Regions from separate parts of the Homo sapiens genome. Here region 2 is linked to region 1. The links come from fine-mapping of genetic effects on gene expression. A gene starts in region 1. The other region holds a variant in brackets. All regions are shown on one strand. Distances are between the middles of the regions.

Region 1 (5,220 bases):
AGCAGATCAGTCAGGGCTGCGGCCTCCCGCGTCTTGGTTTTCACTTAAACATCTCTTCCTTTAGAGAGGGCAAGATGATTGTCTCCACTCCCACCTTTCCCCTTGTTTATTTACTTCCCAGCACTTTTTATTCACTGAGTCAACAAATATCGATTGAGCACCTAGTATGCTCCAGGCACCATTCCAGGTGCTGGGGATACAGCAGTGAGGGGATACACCTCCCTTACAGGCTTCTCTTAGGCTGGGGAGACAGACACCAAATCATGGAGATATAAAGACATAAATTATGCACCGTGTTTGATGGTGATAAGAGTTGTGGAAAAGCAGAAAGAGAGAAATTAATTGATCGGTGTGTCTCTCTCCTCTGCGGAAGTGTGGGCTGAATGGGGGCTGGTGCTGAGTCTGGCTCGTGCCCCAGCATAGCCCGAAGCCCACACAGTGCCCACACATAGTAGGTGCTCATTGGGCAAATGAATGAATCAGTAGGGCCTGGGAGAACAGGGCCTGGGCGGAAGGAGAAGGTGCCCCAGTGAGAGGGAAGAGCGGGAGCAGGGCCTAGGACCTGAGGAGGTCCAATCTGGCCAGAGCAAATGGCCAGGGGAGGGAGTGGTGGGCTCCGAGGCTGGCACGGTGGTGGGCAGAGCTGGAACCACCCTAGGGAGGGTGCGTTTCAGCCCAGGAGGTTGACACGTGGCAGGCCAAGGTGCCTGGGAGCTTATGTAAGGCCCGTGGCTGTTTTTCTGGAATCAAGAGCAAAGCCCTGAGCTCAGGAGAAAACTCCGCCTCCCTGACCAGCCAGGGGAAGTGGCAGGAGGTGCCAACCCCTGCCCGTTGCCCCCGGGAGCCAGAGAAATGTCCAAATGCATCAGCTCCGGGTGGCTTGGTCGACAGCCCAGCAGCAGCTGGGTGGGCACCAGGGACGTGGACCCCATCTCTCAATCCCACGGCTCAGACTGGCCCTGTAGGGGTTCTAGGATCCCAGGGACCCCAGTGGACAAAGTTTTAGGGACTAGTACCCTTTGGGGTGAGGTGGTGAGGGGCAGGCCCTGGGAGTGGCTGTCCGTCCCATCTTGCCATTGACTGGTTGCGGAGGCTCTCGGCCAGCGAGGGCACCATCAGTTGTCATGAAGCCCGCCTGGGGGTCTGGTGCTGGGATTCTGGCCTCTCAACACCACCTAGTGCTTCACTTGGCTGGGTGCATAGCCTTGACAACCCGCTTTGTTCTCTTGGCCTCAGTTTCTTCACCTGCCAAATGGGCATAATAGTCCTCCTGAGGTTGTTGTGAGCATCAGACAAGGCCAGGGAGTAGAAGTGCTTTGAGTTGGAGTCGGAGCCAGCAAGATGATTTGCATCACCTAGAACAAAATGAAAATGTGGGACCTCTTGATAAGCAATTAAGAATTTCATGTTGGTGACAGAAGAATTCTAAAGCAAGTTCAGGGCCCTTCTGAGCACGGGGCCCTGTGCAGCTGCCTGAGCCACAGACCCAGGAAGCGGGCTCTGACCGGAATTCTTTTTTTTTTTTTTTTTTGGTGACAGAGTCTTGCTCTGTTGCCCAGGCTGGAATGCAGTGGTGTGATCTTGGCTCACTGCAACCTCCACCTCCCGGGTTCAAGTGATTCTCATGCCTCAGCTTCCCGAGTAGCTGAGATTACAGCGTGTGCCACCACACCCAGCTAATTTTTGTATTTTTAGTACAGATGAGGTCTCACTATGTTGGCCAGGTTGGCCTCAAACTCCTGACCTCAGGTGATCCACCCACCTTGGCCTCCCAAAGTGCTGGGATTACAGGTGTGAGTCACGTGCCTGGCCTTTGACTGGAATTCTATTTCTGCTGTTACTCTGCTACATGTCTGTCCTGTCCCTTCTCTGGGCCTCGGTTTCTTCATCTGTAAGGCAAGGAGGTTAGACTCTAAGATTCCTGGGTTCTCAGCCTTGTAAGGCAGTGGCTGGGAGGTCCCTGGGTCAAGGGCTCAGCTGTAGGTCTCAGCTCAGGGGTTACTTCCTCAGGGAAGCCAACTGTGATTCCCTCCTGGCTTGCCAGCGTTCCCCCAGTCTCTGATTCTGCAGCACCCCAACATTGCCTTTGTAACCTGCATTGTCCTGGCAATAATGTCTGTCTTTACAATCACCTCTTTTTTCTTGCAAGTTTTCTTTACCTTTGATGGTGCAATAAATACATAGCTCTAGTCTTGTAAAAAAGTTAAGATCCCTTCCTTCCTTCCTTCCTTCCTTCCTTCCTTCCTTCCTTTCTTCCCTCCCTCCCTCCCTCTCTCCCTCTCTCCCTCCCTTCCGTCTTTCTTTTCTGTCTATAATTACTTAAACATTTTTTCTCTTAAATAATGAAAGATTTCAAATACAGAAAATTGCCAATAGACAAAAAAAAAAGAGTTAATATCACAATTATATTCTAAGAAGGCTTTATTCTCCCCACTATCTTCGTTTGCCAAAACTGAGGCTCAGCCAGGGTGAGCAGACTTGCCCCATGATCACCCAGCTTGGAAGCAGATTCCAAGTTGGGTGCAGCTGGGCCCTCAGCTGTTTCGTAATCCTCATGCAAGAGTGAGGGTGAGGGGCCTGTGGGGCTCAGGTGGGGCTGTCAGAGCTGCATCCGTCCACTTATTGGTGGAGAGGCAGGTTGGGGAGCATGTACCAGGCCTGTCCCCACCACGTGCCACCCTCTCTGTCTTCCCCAGGGCTCCCAGCTCAGTGTGGACATGGCTGAGAGCGCCTCCCCGCCCTCCTCATCTGCAGCAGCCCCAGCCGCTGAGCCAGGAGTCACCACGGAGCAGCCCGGACCCCGGAGCCCCCCATCCTCCCCGCCAGGCCTGGAGGAGCCTCTGGATGGAGCTGATCCTCATGTCCCACACCCAGACCTGGCGCCTATTGCCTTCTTCTGCCTGCGACAGACCACCAGCCCCCGGAACTGGTGCATCAAGATGGTGTGCAACCCATATCCTCCGCAGCCTCGGCTGATCGGGGCCCTGCAGGGGCTGAAGGGTGGGGGGCTGGATTGAGTCCTGCTGCTCACACCTTGCTCCGGCTGGGAGACCTGAGGTCTGCGGTGAGGCCACTGGGCCTTGGTGGTGGTGAGCGAGCTCAGAGGGTGGGTCTGGGGAGACCTCAAATGGATGAGGACCTGGTGTTCTGCTGATGTGAAGGTTCTGGAAGTTGCTGGTGGCTGTGGGGTCAGTCCAGTGGCTGGCTGGCTCAGAAAGTCCTTGAGTGTGGGCCCCAGACCTGTGCTGGGCTGGGAATGCAGATCAGTCAGACTCTGGAGCCACCTGATGGGCCGTGACCATACAGAGGATGGGAGCCGTGATCAGGAACTGTGGGCGTGGGCAGCGGGGCAGCCGATCCCAACACACAGGGCAGGACTCATTCTCCTTACTGTGCCTCCGAGCAGCCTCTTCCCAGGCCTCCTGCCTCCACTTGCTGCCTCCAGTGGGCTCATGTTCCCCCTGCTTAAGACTGTCATGATTTGCTATGGTCCTGGAGGTGCAGAGCAAAGTCCTAATCCAACCCATCAGGGCCTGTGTGTTCCACCCAGCCTCACTTCCCACCACTTGGCTTCCCCCCTGTGCTCTTCTGAGCCTCAGGGTCCTCTCACTGGCTCTTCCCCCTGTCTGAAAAGCTTTTCCCTTCCCCCTGGACCTGGCCAAATCCTTTGCTACATCCTTAAAATCCCAGCTTAAGCATCACCTCCTCAGGGAAGCCCTCTGGGATTCCTCCTCTGCTTCATATCTAACTGTCACATCTAACTGTGGAATTCTGAATCTAACATTTGCCTCCCCTGGGGTACTGTCAGATGACTGGGATGGGGACCCTAGCACCTGGCACAGTGCTTGGCACATCGTGGGTGCTCTGGCAGTGTTTGCTGGGTGTACATGGGCAATGCCAGAGCTGACTCCTCAATAAGGAAGAGCGTTGGTTGGGTAGAGAGGGTAGTGGGAGGCAGGAGGAGGGCATGGCAGGAGCGAAGCCTGGAGAAGGGAGGAGTTGCAGGCAGTGTTGGAGCCCTGAGGGGCAGAGAGGAGTGAGGTGAGGCTGCAGGTGTGGCGGGAGCCCTGCAGGGCCTTGGAGGCTGCATGAGGGATGGGACTGTGCTCCAAGGGCAGGATTTGAAGCAGGGTCTGGAGAGATCTGTGCTCTGGAAGGACTGTGTGGCACTGGCTTGCAGGGTGAAGTGGGGGCTGGGGACCACTGAGGAGGAGGCTTGGGGACCCAAGCCATGGTGGCCTTGTGGTTTGAGGGTCCCACCAAAAAATGCCCATATGTGGCTCGAGGTTCTGGTGCTTGTGGCCACACAGGGCAGGGTGCGGGGAGCTGGTGGGTCAGGTGCAGGCCTGAGTCCTGCCCTGGAATCCAGGGATGCCAGATGCAGGCTGGGATGTTGAGACTGGCTGCAGGACTGCCAGGCTTCCCTTCTGTAGGGGGCTGAGGTGATCGTGGGCCCTGGATCCCCCTAACTTTTGGAAACCAGCGGGTCTCTGCTGGAGTGGGATGCAGAACTGGGTGTTCCTTGCTGGGTGGGGGCTAAGAGCCTCCCTGCTCCTTCTGGGGGACGGCTCACAGCGTCTCAGGCTTGGTGAGAGGGTCTGCTCGGTAATTAGTTCACCCAGCACTCACTGACATCTGCCCTGGGACACTGAGGACAAAGAGGCAGAGCTGGTGTCTGTCCCAGGGAGTGCCCGGGGAAGAGGGAAGCAGGGACCACCCATTTGGCTAGTTTTTTTTTTTAGATGGAGTCTCGCTCTGTCACCCAGGCTGGAGTGCAGTGGCGCGATCTCGGCTCACTGCAACCTCCGCCTCCCAGGTTCAAGCAATTCTCCTGCCTCAGCCTCCCGAGTAGCTGGGACTACAGGCACCCACCGCCATGCCCTACTAATTTTTGTATTTTTAGTAGAGATGGGGTTTCACCATGTTGGTCAGGCTGGTCTCGAACTCCTGACTCGTGAACCGCCTGCCTCGGCCTCCCAAAGTGCTGGGATTACAGGTGTGAGCCACTGTGCCCAGCCTACGTGGCTAGTTTTAATACAAAGCACTGGGGAAACCTCAGGGGCTTGTGGCATGTGAACAGAGGAGTGCCAGGCCTGAGAAGGGGGCGGCCGCAGGAATTTTGGGCCTTTAGGAAGAGAAAGGCTGGTAGGAGGACCAGGGGGACAATTTCACAATGTCTCAGGGGCCTTTCCTGGGTGAGATGACAAGAGTTGATTCTGG
Region 2 (5,220 bases), 91 kb after region 1:
CTGGGGGCCATACCTCAGCACCTGCTGGGGCTGTGGGCGGGAGCCTGGGGGATGTGGTCCACTGTGCTTCTCTGGACAAAGCCACCTGGACCTGGGTGTGAAGCCTGACACTGTTCCTCAGTCCCCTGTGGCTTTCAGCAAGCATGAACCCCTAAGCCTCAGTGTTCATCTCTGTAAAATGGGACCAACGCTGCCCCGCCTCCCCCTGCCCTGCATTTTACTGAGTTGACTGAGAATGAAACAAGGTGAGTAGGCAGTTTGGTGCATGTGAGTCCGATGAGCCTCTTCCATCCTTTCCCCAGCATCCTTGGGATGCATATTTTTGGCTGCAAGTTCAGCCTCCGCACGGACACTGGAGACACGGTGCCCGACAGGAAGAACTTCGACTCCCTGCTGTGGGCCATCGTCACTGTGTTCCAGGTGAGTGGCCGCTGCGTGTTCATGTTTGCTGGGGAAGCGATGGGACAGTAGGCCTGGGAGGGGCGGGGCTGACAACTCCCATGCCTCCTTGTAGAGCCTAGCCCTGGACTAGGGGTACCCCAGGGCTAACTGTGTCTCCCCAACAGATCCTCACCCAGGAGGACTGGAACGTCGTTCTCTACAATGGCATGGCCTCCACTTCTCCCTGGGCCTCCCTCTACTTTGTCGCCCTCATGACCTTCGGCAACTATGTGCTCTTCAACCTGCTGGTGGCCATCCTGGTGGAGGGCTTCCAGGCGGAGGTGACTGTGGTCTTGGCAGAGGAAGCACCCCCACAGGGTCTGCGAAAGACTGGGCGAGGGAGAGGTGGCCTGGATGGGGGAGGGCTGCAATTCAAACTTCTAGCAGGCAACCTATCCCTAAAGGAGGGGGTTGCTGATGAGGTGGTGAGCTCTTCATCATAGGAAGCATGCAAATGGAGACTGCGTCTGCCATCCCTGCTCCCCCCCAGGGATGTAGGACTAGGCTTCTCCATCTCTGAGATTCGAAATCCCCCAAGATTAGGGACTCTGGGCCCTGCTCCCTCCGTTCTCTGAGGCTCTGGGGATACTTGCAGTCAGGCAGATGTAGGGTTGTGACCTAGGTTCTTGTTAGCATCTCATTTCCCTTTTCCAAACCTCAGTTTTCCCATTTGCAAAATGGCGGTGGAAACACCCATAGAAAAATTCTAGAGGGAGCTGGGAAGGGAGGAGCTGGACTGACCTGCATTCTAACGTGACGGATGCTCTCCCAGGGTGACGCCAATCGCTCCTACTCGGACGAGGACCAGAGCTCATCCAACATAGAAGAGTTTGATAAGCTCCAGGAAGGCCTGGACAGCAGCGGAGGTAAACAGGCCCTCGCTTGTCACCTAGAGAGCCCAGAGCCTTCTCCACAGATCCAGGTGGGCAGAGGGTACAGCGTCTGACTCCACCTCAAGCCCAGGCTCAGGGACTGCTACTTATCTATGGTTTGTTGTTTACGTTCATAATTGGAAAAAATGTGAAATCTCAAAAAGAGGTCAGTGACATCCATGGACCCCTGGGATTCTAGGCACAGGGGTAGCCGCAGCCCACCACATCCCTCCACATACCAGGGCCCCTTGGTTAGAGCCTTGGGGCCTTAGGTCAAGGTGTAGGTTCTGGTCCTGCCTGGCACTACTGGGCATCTTGGAACAAGCATCCTCCAACCCTAGCCCAGTGTCTTTCTCGGTAACTGGGGCGGACAGTCCCTGCCTTGTTTCCCATAGTGGGCATGGGAGTGAGGTGTCAGGCTGGTTCTGAGCACAGAAGGCAAGGGGTCCACACATACCTAAATAAAGCTAAGAGCCCTGCAGGTGGGGCGAAGGGGAGGCACTGTGATGGGGTGCAACCAGGAAGACTTCCTGGTAGAGGAAGCCTCCTTAGAAAAGCTCTCCATTTCTGCTCCTTCCTTGTTTGTCTGTCTCGTGGCTCCCTTGCTGTTGTTCTGTCCTGTCTGCCATCTGTCCCTCCCTCTGTCTCCATCTCACTCCTCCAGATCCCAAGCTCTGCCCAATCCCCATGACCCCCAATGGGCACCTGGACCCCAGTCTCCCACTGGGTGGGCACCTAGGTCCTGCTGGGGCTGCGGGACCTGCCCCCCGACTCTCACTGCAGCCGGACCCCATGCTGGTGGCCCTGGGCTCCCGAAAGAGCAGTGTCATGTCTCTAGGGAGGATGAGCTATGACCAGCGCTCCCTGGTGAGTCCTTGTGGGGAGCTCTGGACGGGCGCTTCCTGCTGGGGTGTGTGTGGAGGGGCCCTGAAGAGAGGTACCTGCCAGTCTAGCCTCAGACTCTGGTGCCCAGCCAAAGTCAGGCAGGGGCCATGTCTGTTGCATTCCTGGGTGCCCAGTGCCAGAGTGGGACCTGGCAATAAGGAACGAATGAAGGCCTAGTGCCAGTGGGGTCTGGTGCAGAGAATTGGATTTTCATCTCAGCAACAATGTGTAGGGTAAAAAGAGCTGGGCTTTGGAGTCAGGCAGACTGCAGCTTGAATCCACCTTCTGCCACTTCCAAGCTGTGTGACCAGGAGCAAATTACTGCCCTTCTCTGAGCCTCAGTTTCCTTACCTGCAAAATGGGAAGATGGCCCTAACTTGCTGTACCTTCCTCAAGGGAAGTGAGGTGGCAGGAGGGGATGTAACCTCCGGGTGGATGTGCCCCCATGTCCCTGTGGATGTGGATGGAGTGAGGTGGGACAGGGAGAGGAGCTCTAGGGTCAAGCCCATTCCATCACCCGCTGGCCAGGTGGGTGGTCTTAGAGCCACAGCGGGGGTGCAGGCTGCCTTTGGGCACCTGGTGCCCCAGCCGTGGGTGTGCCTGTGGGGCGCTGACCCGAACGGGAACTCCTTCCAGTCCAGCTCCCGGAGCTCCTACTACGGGCCATGGGGCCGCAGCGCGGCCTGGGCCAGCCGTCGCTCCAGCTGGAACAGCCTCAAGCACAAGCCGCCGTCGGCGGAGCATGAGTCCCTGCTCTCTGCGGAGCGCGGCGGCGGCGCCCGGGTCTGCGAGGTTGCCGCGGACGAGGGGCCGCCGCGGGCCGCACCCCTGCACACCCCACACGCCCACCACATTCATCACGGGCCCCATCTGGCGCACCGCCACCGCCACCACCGCCGGACGCTGTCCCTCGACAACAGGGACTCGGTGGACCTGGCCGAGCTGGTGCCCGCGGTGGGCGCCCACCCCCGGGCCGCCTGGAGGGCGGCAGGCCCGGCCCCCGGGCATGAGGACTGCAATGGCAGGATGCCCAGCATCGCCAAAGACGTCTTCACCAAG[A/T]TGGGCGACCGCGGGGATCGCGGGGAGGATGAGGAGGAAATCGACTACGTGAGTGGGGGCGGGGCCGAAGGGGACCTGGTGCGGTGGGATAGGACAGAAGTGGGTGCGGCCCCAGGAGGCGGGGCCCGAGCGGGCGGGCCCACGGGGGGCGTGGCCGGGGCGTGGCCGGAGCGGCTAGGGCTTCAGGTGTGAGGCAGGAGGGGTGGGGCCAGAACTGCCCACACCTGAGCTGGGCCGGCTCCTGGGAGAGAAGCCCTCCCTGGCTGCCCCCGGGGGGCAGAGAGTTCGGAGGTGACCCTGCGACCCCAGTTGGCGCGATGGCCGCATGGGCGGAGACCGGCAACCCTGCGCATCGCTGACCCCCGGCGCTCCGTCCTCCTCTTGCTAGACCCTGTGCTTCCGCGTCCGCAAGATGATCGACGTCTATAAGCCCGACTGGTGCGAGGTCCGCGAAGACTGGTCTGTCTACCTCTTCTCTCCCGAGAACAGGTGGGCAGGGCCAGGCCTGGGGTGAGGGTTAGAGTAGGGGTAACGTGGGAGGGACGGATCTCTGCCAAGCCAGGCAAGGCCATTGGTGGCGCTCTCCCAGACCACAGCGGACCCTCCCGGCCCAGAGGTGGGGGTCTCCAGGGGAGAGTGCAGCCTCCTGAGGGCTGCTGGGTGAAGATGGATTTGGGGAGTGGGATTGGCTGGAGGAGGTCAGGGAAGAGTCTCAGCCTTGGCTTCCAAGATCCCTGGGGATCAGGGTTCCCTCTGGGGCTAGGCGAGGACTTTAGGCAAGACGGATGTTGGTGGCCAGGCTCTCCTGGGCTCTCCTCTAGTCTAGGCCATCCCTGTGCTGGGCACCAGGTTGAACCATTCTCAAGTAGCCTGTATGGCTTGCATCTGAGGGGACATCAGAAGGCTTCCTGGAGGAGGAGGCCTTTGTGCTGGGCTCTGGAGGCAGGTGGCATTCCAGTAGGCACATCAGGGGCTGTGAAGAGGAGGAGCCTGGTGCAGGGGCAGGGAGCAGCCTGAGGGAAGGCCTGGGGCAGAAGCAGAGGGTACTAGGCAGCGTGGTATCCTCCTGACAGGCTCAGGGATCTGGGCTGGGTAAGCCTCGAGTGCCAGGGAAAGGTGGGTGACCTCGTGGTGTGGGTGTATGGTCAGAGGAGGCAGCGCCAGGTGGGCACCCTGAGCAGGTGTAGAGTCGGCACCTGGCCAGAGGAGAGGATAGGGGTTGCTTCCTCGAGGCCAGCGTGGTCTGCACTGCTGCCTGGGCCCTCTGCCTTCCTTCTGGCCAGGGTGGGAGGCAGCTGACGCTCAGGCAGCCCCCGCCCACCCTGCCCAGGTTCCGGGTCCTGTGTCAGACCATTATTGCCCACAAACTCTTCGACTACGTCGTCCTGGCCTTCATCTTTCTCAACTGCATCACCATCGCCCTGGAGCGGCCTCAGATCGAGGCCGGCAGCACCGTGAGTGGCTGTAGCCTTTGGGCAGGGCAGGCGCCAGGCCAAGGGACAGCTCGCCAGGGCTGAGCAGGGCAGGGAGACCTCACCGAGGTGGGGAGGCAGGACAGGAAGTTTGCCTTTGGGGCGGGGAAAGCCTCCGTGAACTGAGAGGTGGCAGCCTCTCCTCTACGAACCTTGGCCAAAGCAGCGGCTGGCCAGTGGCCGGGCAGCTCTGGGAGCCCCTGAGCCTATGGTATCTCCCGATGCTTTCAGGAACGCATCTTTCTCACCGTGTCCAACTACATCTTCACGGCCATCTTCGTGGGCGAGATGACATTGAAGGTAGCTCCCGGTTTCACCCGGGACCCCTGCTAGCCCCAGCTCGGGCCCCTGGCCCTGGGTCAGCCCCTGCCTCAGCTTGTCACTCGCCTGCCATCGGCTTCATTTCACTCGTAGCCCCATGGCCCACCCCTCTGGGTGCCAGCCCCGGGGCTGGGCTCCCGCGACCCAGAGGGGGTCAGCCCCGTCCCCAT

The links.
Region 2: its variant is fine-mapped to the expression of CACNA1I in whole blood (TOPMed, PIP 0.98).

What each region holds. Positions count from the first base shown.
Region 1 is chr22:39,568,036-39,573,255 of GRCh38, forward strand. It overlaps CACNA1I (calcium voltage-gated channel subunit alpha1 I), which reads left to right and starts at 2,718. Exons shown (of 37, transcript NM_021096.4): 1 at 2,718-2,953. The coding sequence starts at 2,718.
Region 2 is chr22:39,659,131-39,664,350 of GRCh38, forward strand. It overlaps CACNA1I (calcium voltage-gated channel subunit alpha1 I), which reads left to right. Exons shown (of 37, transcript NM_021096.4): 13 at 303-420; 14 at 567-722; 15 at 1,214-1,307; 16 at 1,978-2,180; 17 at 2,835-3,305; 18 at 3,646-3,746; 19 at 4,588-4,711; 20 at 4,961-5,029. Among named protein-coding and RNA genes, the nearest start is that of CACNA1I, 91 kb to the left of the region's middle. RefSeq lists a silencer at 3,328-3,447 and an enhancer at 4,658-5,187. The variant A/T (reference allele first, on the strand shown) is at 3,258.